Linked DNA regions of Homo sapiens. The protein of the gene in region 1 purifies or fractionates together with the protein of each later gene. This does not show direct contact. Each region holds a gene or a part of one and is shown on either strand. Other genes may lie near its edges.

The links.
Region 2: the proteins of TP53TG5 (region 1) and PSME3IP1 purify together in Homo sapiens (co-immunoprecipitation; 3 studies listed by BioGRID and IntAct, with this or other methods). This does not show direct contact.
Region 3: the proteins of TP53TG5 (region 1) and FNTB purify together in Homo sapiens (affinity purification with mass spectrometry, with the first as the bait; 2 studies listed by BioGRID). This does not show direct contact.

The regions. Positions count from the first base shown.
Region 1 is NC_000020.11:45,371,557-45,375,703, forward strand, and holds the end of TP53TG5 (TP53-target gene 5 protein), read right to left. Parts: exon of another isoform or gene 3,997-4,147; coding exon 3,483-3,996; exon of another isoform or gene 2,739-3,482; coding exon of another isoform or gene 2,738-2,738; intron 2,456-2,737; coding exon 2,351-2,455; 3' UTR 1,001-2,350; downstream 1-1,000. UniProt on the Homo sapiens protein: May play a significant role in p53/TP53-mediating signaling pathway.
Region 2 is NC_000016.10:57,151,966-57,155,039, forward strand, and holds the end of PSME3IP1 (PSME3-interacting protein), read right to left. Parts: intron 2,543-3,074; coding exon 2,325-2,542; 3' UTR 501-2,324; downstream 1-500. UniProt on the Homo sapiens protein: Promotes the association of the proteasome activator complex subunit PSME3 with the 20S proteasome and regulates its activity.
Region 3 is NC_000014.9:65,038,376-65,046,253, reverse strand, and holds part of FNTB (protein farnesyltransferase subunit beta), read right to left. Parts: intron 5,465-7,878; coding exon 5,335-5,464; intron 1,944-5,334; coding exon 1,811-1,943; intron 1,567-1,810; exon of another isoform or gene 1,485-1,566; intron 1-1,484. Other genes in the region: CHURC1-FNTB protein, read right to left, coding at 1,811-1,943, 5,335-5,464. UniProt on the Homo sapiens protein: Essential subunit of the farnesyltransferase complex. Catalyzes the transfer of a farnesyl moiety from farnesyl diphosphate to a cysteine at the fourth position from the C-terminus of several proteins having the C-terminal sequence Cys-aliphatic-aliphatic-X.

The DNA.
Region 1 (4,147 bases):
TAAACAACTTTTTCCCCATTACAAAGTTGGTAAGAAGCTAGGCCTGTCTGCCTCATCTGCTTTTCACGTTCCAGTTATGTTTATGTGTGATCCAGACAATTGTGAGACGGACAGTCTTAGGGATCTAAATGCCATATTAGCAAAAGGTTGTGAATGTAAACGTACGTTTGGCTTGTTAACAAGCAGCTAGTTCCATAAAGGTGAGTAGTTAGGTAGCTGCTGATAAGTGAGAAATGGAGCCGGGACTGACTGGCCACAGGGCTTTATTATGATGGCCGTGGTGTGGCGTGGGAAAAGGCCAAACATTTGTTCAATGCCCCACAAACTGGCTTCTCCTACATCAAGCTTGATTTGCTTAAACCCCCCTGAAACAGACATTAGTATCACTATTTTATAAACATGAAATAGGCTCAGAGAGGTCATGTGACTTCTAAAAAGTCACTCAATATAAAATCAGATTCAAACACTTCAATTTTTTCCCAGTTAACTGTTAAGCAGCCATTTCTAGGGTGGCCTCCTCCCCAAATCTGTGTTACTGGGCCCAGAGGAGGAGCTTTAGGTTGAAATGGTTAAACAAAGAGAGGGTGGTAGTGGGGAGACCCTGGTTGTGGAATTGTGGGAGGCAGGTGGCCAGAGGCCTAAGTGCCGGGGCAGGTGGGATGAGGTGGAAGGATGTACTGCTGGGATTCCCTCACTCCCAGACCTGCCCCTTGCTGCCCTGGCCATGCTGGGTCCCCGCCTTCGTATACAGCCCTCCCATATATTCAGTGGCGTTCCCAGTGGGCAACTGGGGCCCAACTCCGGCTCTCTGGAGCAAAGTGGAAGTTGCCAGTCTCACTCAGGCCCAACCCAATCCAGCCTCCACTTGGGGCTCCCTGGGCAGGCCCCCACGAAGGCTAGTGCAAGGGAGCTCCCCAGAAAGGGTCAGATTTTTTAGCTGGGAGGGCGCTGTCTTGACTGCCCGCTGACAGCGCACTCAGGACAGAAGTTCACGCAAAGGTTGATGGAATGGAAGAGTGAGTAGAGATTATTTTCGAAAGTTGATGGGATTGAAAATACCCAGCAAGGGAACTGCAAGGGAGACTGTTCAGGAAATGGGCTGGAGTGCAAGCTGGGTGGGAAGACCGCTGAAAGTGGTTACTGGGGTGGAATTTGCACGGGAATTAGCGGGGTGGTGGGGGCGGAGGTAGGCACCGACCGTAGGGGAGCTCCAGGAAGATTGCGCTGGGAGCAGGAGCTCGGGAGCACGCAGCAGCCACTATGAGGTGCTAAGCAGTCCCCGCGCTGTGGCTCCGCCCAGGCTGGTCCGCGCGGCAGCTGATGCCCAGTCTTGGTGCCCAGTAATGGTGGGGAGGAGTGTGTGAGTGGGCGGGGTGGGAGGGGGGGAGAGTCCATCCAATCGTTCTCCCTCTGTCCCAAACTGGAGATCTATCTGCATCGCTGCCCTGACCCCCAATCCCGGAGAGCTCTGTGCCCCTCGATGGCTCCACTGCTCTCCCGAGGGCGCCCACTCCATGCAGCCTGCCTCTGGGGAATATGGAGGTCTTCGTCCGGAGAAAACTCGGGCTCCCTTGGCTTTCCTCTCCCCAACGGCATGGTTAGGACCCTGTGACTCCTACCGACAGAGGGTGACCCCGGCCAGATGGGGTCGACCAGGGCTTGGGGTTGAGGTCTTCAGATTGAGGGTGGACCTGCCATGTCACCCTGGAGCAGTAGAGATGCAGTACCAGCTCCCCCTCCTGATCCGGTGCCTTCTGTGATCTGTGACCAAGGCAGGACACATTTGGAGGCCCAGCTGACATCCACTTTTTGACACCAGCCACAGTGCAATCAGTTTTTGACAATCAATTTTTGACAATCAGGTCGCAATGCACGCGCATGACCTACAGGGTGCTGGGGCTATTCCGCCTGCCTCGTGACTTCTGAGCAGGCTCTCATTTCGCCTTTTCCCTTTCTTGGGAAAATGGAATGGGGAGCAACCAGGAGCCCTTGCTCCTGCCACTTTCTAGCTGAGTGAGCCTGGGCAAGTTACTTGCTGCCTCCGCGCCGCGGTTTCCTCTTGCGAGCTCGCGGGGCGATTGTGAGGCACTTTGCACCCAGGAAGCACACGAGCGCCCTGACTTCACAGAGCGCGCCACTCAGGAGACTAGCTCGCGGAGGTGGGGGAGGGGTGCTGCTCGCTGGCTTCTTTGGTTCTAGACTGACCTTAGGGGCCTCGGGGTGGGGGTGGGGGAAGCCTGAAGTCGCGACACAGGCTCCCTCTACCGAAGGCCTCTTTCCTTCATCCTTCCCAGCCCCAGACAAACAGGCAGAGTAAGCAGTATTCGTCTTAGGTGCCATATGGAAGATCTTATTTGTAGACTCGTGAATTTCGCCACCCATTCCTCCCCTTCAGCTGATGGCGCGATCTCCACCCTCTGCTCGCACCTCTGGCTCTCGTCCAGGTCACATCAACCTGCCAGCAGAAACCTCGGTGTTAGGCGCTAAGACTGTCCCCAGGGGGCGCTGGTCGTTTGGGGAGCGGGCGCAGGGACAAGGGTGCTGTGGTGTCTGGTAGGTTGGAAATGCCTTTGCTAAAAAGGAAAAGCCTCCCTTTAAGCTAGACCCGGTGGGCACTCACCCCCTTCCTTTCGTGGGACTTTCATTCTCCCACGAAAGGGCTGCGGTATTTTCTTCTTTTTTTGCTAAGGAACTTTCTGCTCAGAGTAAATCTTTTTTTCCTTTCTTTTTTTTTAAGACAGGGTCTTGCTCTCTTGCCCAGGCTGGAGTGCAGTGGCGAAGTCACAGCTCACTGCAGCCTCGACTCCTGGGCTTAAGCGATCCTCCGACCTCAGCCTCCTGAGTAGCTGATACTACAAGCGCAAGGCACCACATCTGGCTAATTTTTAAATTTTTTGTAGAGACAGTGTCTCATTATGTTGCCCAGGATGGTCTTGAACTCCTGGCCTCAAGCAGTCTTCCTGCCTCGACCTCCCAAGGTGCTGGGATTACAGGCGTGAGCCACCATGCCTAGCCTGTTCAGAGTAAATCTTATTTGAGGCATGAATCAATCAAACATAAATAGAGAGTTGAATTGATCTTAGAGGGAATGGGATGCAGCAAAGCCCTACTTGACCATCTCCCCCCTCCCACATTTGGAAATCCTTAAACCCACTTATGTAGGCCTCTGACTGTGAGATTCAGAGCCACAGCAGTTTCCACCTCTGCTAAGGCCTTCAGGCAGTGAGATGGCTCACTTCAGTGCCCCTCCTTCCACACATCTCCTAGCTGTATCCTGAGACGCCTCAACCTAGTCACTACCCTTCTGTATGATGTTGGTCTAAGGCTTCCCCCTCTCTGGACATGAAGGCGGAGCCTCCCAGCACTACCAGCCACACACCACTCAAGACTCCAGATCCTGAACCCTGACTCTGGGGCCCAGCTCTGGGCCTGGCTTGGGGCTTGCATCTCACCTAGCCTGGCAGTGTTGTTGTCACACCCACCTTGTATGGATGCCACATAGGCATTTCAAGTGATGCGGAGCAGAAGCGGGTGCAGCGGCGCTTGACCCAACGCAGGGTGGAGGATCTGCACATCACCCTGGGCGCCGGGAGGTGGATTCGTGTGGGCAGCCCCTCAAACCAGATCCACTGGTCGGCTACATCCAGCTGCTTCATGTGCCCCATGGGAGTTCTATTGCGGTAGGGCTTAATGAAGATGACTCGGGGGCCCTCGGTGAGTGGTTGCCTCCCCTGGACTCCAGGGTTCAAGCTATCATCCCTCGATGTCCTTGGAACCTCAGGCTCTATATGCTTTTCTTTCCGTGGCATTGCCGCCAATGACGTTTTCTCCTTGTTCCTCATCCCTGACTGCACCTGGGACTTCCACTCCTTGTACTCTTTTTTCTTAGGGTCCCCTGTGGACTCTAATTTCTTGGACTTGAGTTCCTTCTCGGAGCACCCGATCTCCTGGAACTCTTCATTATTTTGTTTTGTTTTATTGCAGGCACTGTTTTCCCTGGCAGGGAGAGGAAAGGCAGTCAGCACAGCAGGACCGAGGCCCTGGTTCCCGAGACAGTTGCTATGTAGCCAGCTCAGGGGAGCCTGTTAAGAAAGGCTAGAGGGGCCTGCAAAGAAACTTCTCTACTGCCCAGAGGCCTTGTGCTGGT
Region 2 (3,074 bases), on another chromosome or scaffold:
TCCTATTAGCTTTCTCCCTCACATGGCTGGAGAATTGTAAGAATCCTACCACTCAGAACAAAGTAAGCGAGCTTAAAGAAACCCATGCCAAACTTTGTTTTTGTCCCGTAATTACCATAAAATCCCAATTATTAAGGCAGGAGTACTACACTTTACAGTTTAAAGCAGTGTTTCCTTCCAGCCCTGTTTATTCTATTCTCCTTTGGGTTTGAACTTCAAGGTCTACACTAGATACTTTCCAAGGCTGCTTCCTCTGTTGGTCAGATCAGACGCTGCTTTGTTAGCTGTGGTTGCTACAGAAGCTCTGTTTCAGTTCCAGAGCTCTGTGCTGATGGGGACAATGGAATATGATGCAATGATCACCAGTGATTCTCAGTCTCTCCTGAGACACCAGAAGGTAAGTCACAGTCTGAAGAGTCTCACTCAACCTTCTCAACACAATCTAGCTGAGAGACATGGGGAGAGGTGGAAGCACAATATTCAGTAGAGGAAAAACAAGATCTTGTTCTCTGACAGGTTTATTAGCTTTCATGTTAATGGATGTTTTTAAACCCTGCAACCCTCTGTCAACTTCTTTCCACATCAAGAGGCCATGAGATACAGTAATGGCCTCTTAAGAGTCATGCCACATAAAGATGATGACTTTGATGTCCTGGCCTGCCTCCTGTAACAATGTGAGGCTGTTTTGGGTACATGCTGTAATAACAACAGGACTATCACAGGAACAATGAAGCAGAGAAGCAGAAGGTGCCTACAAAGTTTTACCTAAATGTCTTGTTTGTCAGGATGGAGCTGATGCGCCCATACTGGCAGAACAATTAGCACAGAGTAGTTCTGAAAAGGAGGAAGAATTCACAAAGCATCAGTTATGGGTGCAGGGAAGTCGCCATCTGCCAATGGGCACCAGAGTGTCACTGTACTGGAAGGGGAAAAGGAGTGGGCTGGATGAGATCCAGGGGCCTCTCTGCCCATGTTCAAAGTCAGTAGCTGCTCTGCCTGCCGGCATCACAGTGTCAACACATTTTGTGTGTGTCTCACTCAGTCTCACACCCAAGAAAGTAAAAACAATTGATGTAGGAATAAGGGGAATGGATAAAGAATGGTACATGCTTATTCTAAAGCAGGAGAGCCTACAGATTGTTGTCAAAGCTCATGTCTATCTCTGTCCTCGAGGCCTCCACACCATCTCCCTCTCCCTCCTCCAGAATCCAAGGGATGAGCCCGTTTCCCTTTATGAGACGAGGTGGAGCAGTACCTCTAGTTTTTGGCTGCTCATGGCCTCAGAGTTGCTGTTTGGAAAGGAAAAAGAGCAGCAGAGGCAGCAAAGAAAAGTACTAGGGCAGCACCTTTAGGTTAGAAATAGATTCCACAGTTAAAAGCACAAGTATAATATGCATTAAACAGAGAAGGGCCTCAATAGAATGGTCACAATATGCAAGTGTGTCCCACTCATTTACAATATTAGGATTCCAGGAGCTGCCAGAAATAAGTCATCTCATTAACATACCTACCTGCAGTTCTGATGTCTGGCTATTAGTAAACAAGGCCTACGTTTGTTTCTCTAAAATTTAGAATCTTAAACTAAATCCTTTATTTCAAAAACAAACATAAAATAATTTCCCAGGCAGAGAAAAGGTTTGAGATGGAAGCGTTCTTGTTAGCAGTCCCTTCCTGCATAAATGGGGTTGGAGAGAGAGGAGAGAGGGAATGGCCAAGGGTATGGAAAGCTTTCACAATGCATGCCGAGTGTGAAGTGACACCCCCAGCAGATGGGGTTTATCATCTTTACTTAGTCACACAACATCAAGGACTGGTTAGTTCCAGGGAAGGGCTCCATTTCACTACCTGGGTCAGTTCTCTTCCCCCGCATGCTCCACAATGCAGTAGAACCAAACAACACATTCATTTACAATAGAATGTTTAAATAACACCTGTCCAATAACTGCCCTTACTTCTTTGTGCTGTCGGGAAAAGAAAAAACAGAAAGCAATAAAACCCAAACCCTTTGGCAAGCCAGCCGGTGCCTATTCTCCTGGGGCATTTTTAGTGGAACTTCGGCTGGGCCTTGCCCTCCTCCCAATATCAGTGAGGAAAGTGGCAGCGGGACAGGTTTGGTCATCTGCAGTGGAGTAGAAAGAGGAACCAAACACGATTCGGGCCACAGGTGGATTCTGGCACATTTTTAGATTGGATTGGTTAAAAATGTCATGTTGTACACAGGATGCAGGCAAAGGAGTTTTTTTTTGAGGGACATAATGCCTATAGGCAGCATGAACGGTCCGATCTACCCTTGGGGAGGAGCTCCCTGTGTAGGGACGGAGAAACTAGGGGGCCTCGAGGAAGGTGTTGGTTCGGAAGATGGAGGAGACAATCTTTCCGGTGGCATTGATGGTGCCTTCGCTGTCTGAGCTGGACTCGGAGTCGCTGCTCCCAGAGTAGGCACCCAGGCCTGGGAGGATGCCGATACATACTGCAGCAGAGGGGCAGTGGATGGAGGGGCCACTCAGGGAGGTGTTTCCGAGAGACTTGCAGGATGAGGGCTCTGCAATAAAAGGGGAAAGACTGTCACTTCATCACCCTTTTCCAAAGTTGGGGACTGACTTACCATGTGCCAGGCACTGTACCAAGGGATTTTCCCACAGAGGAGCCTTAGAACAATGCTATGCAGCCAATACTATCATCACCCTCGTTTTAGAGATGGGGAAACTGAAGGAGGAAGGGAGGCTCCAGGAGGTGAAAGGACTTCTGAAAGTAAAGGGGCAGAGCTGAGACTTGAATCAAGGTCTTTTTAACCCCAGAGCCTGACTACACTCTCTTGTTCCCCATCAAATCCGAGTTGGAGAACAAGCTACTCTGGAGTGTAGCCTAGAGTGCTTTGATTTCCCTGTGCTCACACAGCCGTGAGAATCTGAAAACAGATTAAGAGAGACACTGTGAGCAATATTAACAATTCCATTAAGTTCTCAGCGTATTACACCATTTCTTATTTACTGACCAATAAGCCAGCTAGCACAGATACAATTTTAAGGCCAAACATCAGCTACAAAATAACATTCTTTTCTTTTTAAACATTT
Region 3 (7,878 bases), on another chromosome or scaffold:
CTGTAATCCCAGCACTTTGGGAGGCCAAGGCGGACAGATCACCTGAGGTCAGGAGTTCGAGACCAGCCTGACCAACATGGAGAAACCCTGTCTCTACTAAAAATACAAAATTGGCTGGGCGTGGTGGTGCATGCCTATAATCCCAGCTATTTAGGAGGCTAAGGCAGGAGAATTACTTGAACCCAGGGGGCAGAGGTTGCAGTGATCCATTGCACTCCGGCCTGGGCAACAAGAGTGAAACTCCGTCTCAAAAAAAAATAATACTAAAATAAAAAATGTTTGACTTGGGGAATTCCTGACTTCCCTACTGGTGGTCAAGGCAGAGACTGTGCAGGCTCCAAAGTCAGTGCACTTGCTGACAGTGCACTTGCTGTGTTCCAAGGGTAAGTGCCTTATATGCCTTAATACTGACACCTAAAGCCCAGTGGGCCCAGGCCGGGAAAATGGGACAGAGGCTCTGCTTACTTTAATTCAGTGTCAGAAATGGTCACAACTCAACAACTCAAAGGAAATTAAGAAACTAAATAATGAGGCTCAGGGCCGGGTGCGGTGGCTCACGCCTATAATCCCAGCACTTTGGGAGGCCGAAGTGGGCGGATCACCTGAGGTAAGGAGTTCAAGAACAGCCTGTCCAACATGGTGAAACCCTGTCTCTACTAAAAATACAAAAATTAGCCAGGTGTGGTGGCACGCGCCTGTAGTCCCAGCTACTCAGGAGGCTGAGGCAGGAGAATTGCTTGAACCTGGGAGGTGGAGGCTGCAGTGAGCCAAGATCGTGCCACTGCACTCCAGCCTGGGAGACAGAGCACGACTCCATCTCGGGGGCGGCGGGGAGGGGGGAAGACGGGGGGTGGGGGGCTCAGAAACAGGAAAAAAAAGTATGGGGAGGGGCAGAAAAGAATCTCATCTTTTACATTTGAGCAGTTACATTATCCAACTAAGTCCGAAGAACAGCTTCTCTTTGGACCCAGGGATCTCATTCCAAAAACAGATCAGCAACCAGCAGGGCCCCATGACTTCCTCTCTCCCACAGGTCTACTCAGAGACACCTGCTCTCACATCAAGTACACCAGAAAGATGGTGCAGGAGTTAGCAGGCAGACTGAGGTTTCAAGAGATAGAGAGAGAATGTTCCCAGACTTTTTGCTCACTAACTACTTCGGTTTTGCGTTCCCATTTGAGACCCCACAGAAACGAACGTGGATTTCTCTACTCCAATGGTGCAGGTGGAACAAACTCCCATTTAGGCTTATTCAATGAATGTAAAATAAAACATTTCTAATAGTGACAACTCTGCAGCCAGTCAGACACGGCGAGTCTCTTCTCCATGGTGTAGGGGCAACCCACCCCTACAACCCACCCCTACACATGGGTTCTGGTTCTCTACCCCTTTACGCAGTTGCCTTTCCTGTTGCTGTTGCAACAGTGACTGTTGCAACACTGAGGGTTTTCAGCTCTGCCCTGCACCCAGAGGAGGTGGCAATCACCACAGAGCCCAGGACAGGAGTGGGCTGCTCCTTCCAGATAACGCAGAAGCAGCGCCCACTTCCTCCCCGCTCCCCGTAGCAATTTCAAGGAAGCTCATTCTGTCGCAGCCAATTTGAAGAAGCAAAGAATGACACTAAACCAATGAAACTAAATCTTACTCTGCATTCGCATGCCCCACGGCATGAGGTTCCACACTGGGCACTCAAAATCCAGGATAGACAGAGCTCATTTCAACCCCTCTAAAAAAGCACGCTGGGCTTCCAGACTTTGTGAGTAGTGGAGGGAAATCATCCAGCCCCAAGTGAACAGCTCCCCAGGCTCACCTTGGGCGTGCAGTGCGCGGTGGAGCAGGGGCAGGAGCCCCGCCTGCCAGAAGGAGTAGCAGCCATCCACCAGCTTGTTGCAGCGGCCCTGAAATCCTCCTTCAAATCGCATCTGCCGGCTTGTCACCCATTGCTGAGGAGACACAGATGGGAAAGGCAGTTGTAGGCTAAAAGAGACAAAATCCAGCCCGACAGAATCTCCAGGAGTCAATCTGTGGGATGGAGGGTTTCCCATCTTGTGGCTTCTTGGCACTCTAGTTTTGGTGCTCTGGTTTTCTTTCCTTCCCTCCCCACACTGCCATAGACACAGAGTGAAGCATTTAAGCCAACGCTGTAGAGGCATCCAGCACTGATCTCTGCTCAATGCCTGGCAGACAACTACCTTTTCCTGGGTTCCAAAGCAGTGCCAGTGCTGAGAAGATAAAGAGGCCAAGCTGGTTTGTAAGGAGACCTTCAAAGTCTCTTAATAAACATGGCTTAAGTTGGAAATTGAAGGCAAGACTACCAGTAGCTCATTTCTCATTACTTCCCTGCTCCGGGGAGTTTATTAAAAGCAGATAAATGGAATTTGGTACTACATTTCTTTTTTTTTTTTTTTTTTTTTTTTTTTTTTTTGAGACGGAGTCTCGCTCTGTCGCCCAGGCCGGACTGCGGACTGCAGTGGCGCAATCTCGGCTCACTGCAAGCTCCGCTTCCCGGGTTCACGCCATTCTCCTGCCTCAGCCTCCCGAGTAGCTGGGACCACAGGCGCCCGCCACCGCGCCCGGCTAATTTTTTGTATTTTTAGTAGAGACGGGGTTTCACCTTGTTAGCCAGGATGGTCTCGATCTCCTGACCTCATGATCCACCCGCCTCGGCCTCCCAAAGTGCTGGGATTACAGGCGTGAGCCACCGTGCCCGGCCTGGTACTACATTTCATCAGATGATCTCAAACTGCTCCTGACTTTTACTTGGCACCTGGGGAAATTTACCCAAGGTCTCTTAGCAAGTCACTAGCAGGCCTGAAAGCAGAAGCCATTCATTCTAATTACCAAATGACAACTCTGCCCAGTCTGTGGCTGATATAAGAAAATCTTTTACTTTGAAGCTGTAAAATAGGTCTTGGTCTTGATGTCACTCAGCGGTCACACACGATACCACCATTCCTTGCTTATCTACAAGTTTTCTAAACACACTCTACTACAAAGATCAAGATAGTCATGGGTTTGGTCCCTCAGAATGAGCAGAACCAACTGGCTGAGCAGATATGACATTTCCATTTCCCTCCCTAGACCACCTAGGCCGTTCCAGCCACGGACTTACAGAGCTGCCTCACTCAACTGAAAGGGTACAGGGGAGGGTACTTCCTGTTTCTAGAGTCTTACTAGGTAAAGGTCCTGAAAGGAGCCACTGGGACCCTTGATGGAAGTGGGGGCCAGCCCTCCCCTAAAAGCTGTTGTTTAGATTATTCCCTCTTCAAGGCAACACCTGCCCATAGAGAGTCACAGTCACAAATGCTTAAAAGAGACAGAAAACACTGTACTGCAGGTTCAGGTACTAATATATCCTCGGTTGATCTTAAATGAACCAGGGCTTCCAGCATGTAATGGAAGTGGGCTAAGCATTACTCAGGCAGAGAGAAAGCAGGCGCTGCAGTGGGAGTCGGTTCCTCATTTCTACTTACCGCAGGGCTTAAGTGTTTTTAAGCAGACTAATTTACTTTTTCCAGTGCCTAAGCCCATGGATTTGTTCTGTTTCCTTGGGCTATAGGAATTCATACTTCAGATATGGGTCCTACTTCTCCCAAAGCAAATGGAAGGGAGTAGTCTGGATTAGAGCAGGGGTCCCTAACCCCCAGACCATGCCAGGCTGCACAGCAGGACATGAGTGGTGGGTGAGCCAGTGAAGCTTAATCTGTATTTACAGCTGCTCCTCACTGCTCCCATTACTGCCTGAGCTCCACTTCCTGACAGATCAGCAGCAGCATTAGATTCTCATAGGAGCGCAAACCCTACTGTGAACCGTGTATGCCAGGCTTCTAGGTTGCACGCTCTACATGAGAGTCTAATGCCTGATGATCTGTCACTGTCTCCCATCACCCCCAAATGGGACTGTCTAGTTGAAAGAAAACAAGCTCAGGGCTCTCACTGATTCTACATTATGGTGAGTTGTATAATTATTTCATTATATATTACAGTGTAATAATAGAAATAAAGTACACAATAAATGTAATGTACTTGAATCATCCTGAAGCCATCACCCCCCGTCCCACCCCCAACCCCAGGTCCACGGAAAAATTATCTCCCACAAAACTGGTCCCTTGTGCCAAAAAGATTATTACTGTGGGTTAGAGGGACACTAACATTTATTAAGTACCTACTATGTGCCAGGCTGTTTATAAATGTTCTCTCCTTTAACCTTAAAAAAATAAGGATTGTTATCCCTACCTTATAAAAGAAAAAAATATCAAGCTAAAAGAGATTAGACAATTTGCCCAAGGACTCATGTCTCAAATGTAGTAGGGACAGGGTTCAAATCTAGAACACTGTCTTTATAACTGAGGCACTCCCTAATCACATTCCTTATCTCTGCCTGGGAGATGGGACTTTTTTGTTTCATGCCTTATTGGTGTTCAGATTTTAAAACATCTGAGAAACTCTTAAGTTCAGCATACAAAGTTGGCTGTTTCAGCATGAGCCTTCAAGCCTTCATGAATCTTTAAAAAGACTACACCGGGGGAGGCTTTCTGAAGGTGGAGGCAAGACACTGCTGGTTACATGTCTACAGGGTACAACAGAAACTCTCCAGGAAGCTCACGATGGGCCGCATAACGGGAGGCTGGCATCTGAACTCAGGGAGAGGAGGTGCATGTCAGTTGCAGCTGGTTTGCTTTGACGTCATGGTCAGGGGGTACATGCTCCCCAAATGACATGACGGGGAATGCCTTCTCCCTGGTGGCCGTGGAGGTGTGTGTGTTTGTGCACCCACTGATCATTTAACTACAATCTAGTGACTCCCTGAAGCTGACTGCTTTCTGAGTTTCTTCTGAATACTGGCCAGGAGCGTGGGGTCCAGACATAAATGTTGGGCTGCCTTCTCAATGCAATTAGCCAGCTCTGCCTAAACAACTCATTTAAATGTAGGTACTAAATGTTTACACAGTGCAGCAGGTAATAAAAGTTTGGTTTCGAAATGCTGCAAAGCTCTTCTTGTAACTTTTCCTCTTAGGAGGTTCTTTCTATAACACACGATAACCTCTAATTCTACGAAACTGAAGTATAAGGAAGGTACTCTGCTCACACCAGATGTCTGCAGCACACAGTCTATGTAGTCTACACACTATGTAAAAAGCTCTAAGCAGGAAGACAGAAAGGCAGAAGGGGGAGCCAAGACAGAGCAGCTGCTCACTCCTTCCTCTGTGTTGGAACAGAGCTAACTCTCTTAGCCCTTCCCATAGCCAAACTCTCCTGAAGCCTGCATGTCTGAGTACAATCACATCACCATGACCTGGGGCCTGAGAGGGGGATGGCTCAAAAGATACTTACTAATAAGCTCTTCAAGTTCAAGGAACGTTCCCTCTTGAGGATTACCAGCGCGGCCAGGCCACAGAAGGTATAGCCACCATGGGCTTCCATCCCTGGTACCCCGCCAATGCCACCTTCCCAGTTCTGACACCTAAGAAGAGATTGAGAAAAGCAGAATGAGTGGCCAGTGAGTGGACGTACACAAGACCAGGACCATCCTAGGTGGCAGAGAAAAAGTTCACTCAGATTAAGGTGTGAACCATCACAACTATGAATGAAAAGATGCCAACTAATTAACTTTTGGAAATGTCTTTTCAAAAAAAAAAAAAAAAAAAAGCTGGGCCTGGTGGCACCCATGTGTAATCCCAGCTGCTCAGGAGACTAAGGCAAGAAGATCACTTGAGGCGAGGAGTTCGAGGCTGCAGTGAGCTATGATCACACCATTGTGCTCCAGCCCGGGTGAAAGAGTGAGACTAGGTCTCCAAAAAATGTAAGTATAATAAAAACTGTAAAATGTTAAAAACCCAGACACTTAGAAACAGCCTACTTGTGTAAGAAACATAATAATTCAAATTATTACTCTTTGGGAAAAAGTTATAAAATCATACATATACATATATGTACATATATACACATATATATACATATATATATATACACACATATATATACATATATATACATATATATATAGTGATAACCATCAAGTTAAAATAAAATTAAAGAGTGATTGTTGATTCTAGTGATCTTTTATTTTTGAAACAGGGTCTTAACTCTGTTACCTAGGTTGACTGCAGATCATGGCTCACTGCAGCCTCAACCTCCTGGACTCAGGCAATCCTCCCACCTCAGCCTCCTGAGTAGCTGGGACTATGGGCGTGCCCCACCATACCCGGACCATTTTTTGTATTTTTTGTAGAGATGGGGCATTGCCATGTTACCCAGGCTGGTCTTAAATTTCTGGCCTCAAGGAATCCTCCCACCCCAGCATCCCAAAGCGTTGGGATGACAGGCATGGGCCACCGCACTTGGCCTCTGGTGATCTTTGAGTACAGGTCTACTAGTAATATTTTTCCTTTTTGTTTTTCTATTTGTTCAAAAAGTTTTTATAATGAACCTGTATACTATTAAAAAATAAACGTTATTTTTAAAAATTATAATTAGGCCAGGTGGTGATGGCTTCTTAAACAGCCTGCAGAACCATGAGCCAAATAAACCTCTTTTCTTTCTAAGTTACCCAGCCTCAGGTATTCCTTTATACTGACACAAAATGGACTAACACAAGAAGGACAAGAAATAACTGACTTAGTAGAATAGAGAAACCTTTCCTACCCAAAGGATAGGGATGGGAGAGGGGCAACAAAAAGCAAGGTGATCTGCTCCAATAAAAGGCTCCAGGATTAGAGATACAGGGAACCTCCACAAAGTGGAATGCGTCTGAACCAAGTTTGTTGGTTGCAAACTTATATAAGAATCAGACCTTTAAGTCCCCTACTCAAATCCAGCAGAAGATGGGAAGTTTCAGAGGTTTAATCAAAAGGATCTGAGTTCCAGAATATCCAACAAGCTAAGAGGAGGAGGGAGCACTGTACCAAATGTGATTACGTGAGAGTCAGTAATCTCAACACAATACCCCCAGCCCCATTCCTCTGTGTATTTCACACAAGGCTGCCAGTTTCATACCCCAAGCAGGAATTTAGAAGATTCCTCTCTGAGGGAACTGATAAGCCCAAGGGAAAAACCCTACAGACACTGCTTTGAGAATTCCCCAATGAATGGCTTGATCCTGCCCACTCTCGCAGAGCTCCCCAGCAGCTTTTCAGTGCTGGATCCTTAAATATGAACAGACAGCTGTAGAGTACCAGACATTTGACCACAGTCTCTACTATGAAAGAGGAGACCAAAACAAACAAAAATAAATTGGAGGAAATAAGACAGGGAGCAAAAGAAAACTTTTTAAAGTTGTATCTTTAGATAAAATATTATATGAAGTAAGACTATTGAGAGGACAAAATATCCCCAGAAAAGAACAAGAGAGTAGATAAAAAAGTAGTCAGGAAGTAAAAGTAGTCAGGGAGGAAAACTAAAAATAGGATTACAAAAATAAAAACAAGAGGATTAGAAGATAAATACTAAGAGAATCTCTCAAAGTATAAGAAGAAGGATTAAGAGATGGAAACGAACCATGCAATGAAATATTTTTATTTTTATTTATTTATTTTTGAGACAGAGTCTCGCTCTGATGCCGAGGCTGGAGTACAGTGGCACAATCTTGGCTCACTGCAACCTCCGCCTCCTGGGTTCAAGTGATTCTCCTGCCTCAGCCTCCTGAGTACGTGGGATTACAGGTGCATGCCACCACGCCCGGCTAATTTTTGTATTTTTAGTAAAGACAGGGTTTCACCATGTTGGTCAGGCTGGTTTCGAACTCCTGACCTCGTGATCTGCCTGCCTTGGCCTCCCAAAGTGCTGGGATTACAGGTATGAGCCACTGCACCCGGCAGTATTATTTTTATTTATTTATTTATTTTGAGATGGAGTCTCACACTGTCACCTGGGCTGGAG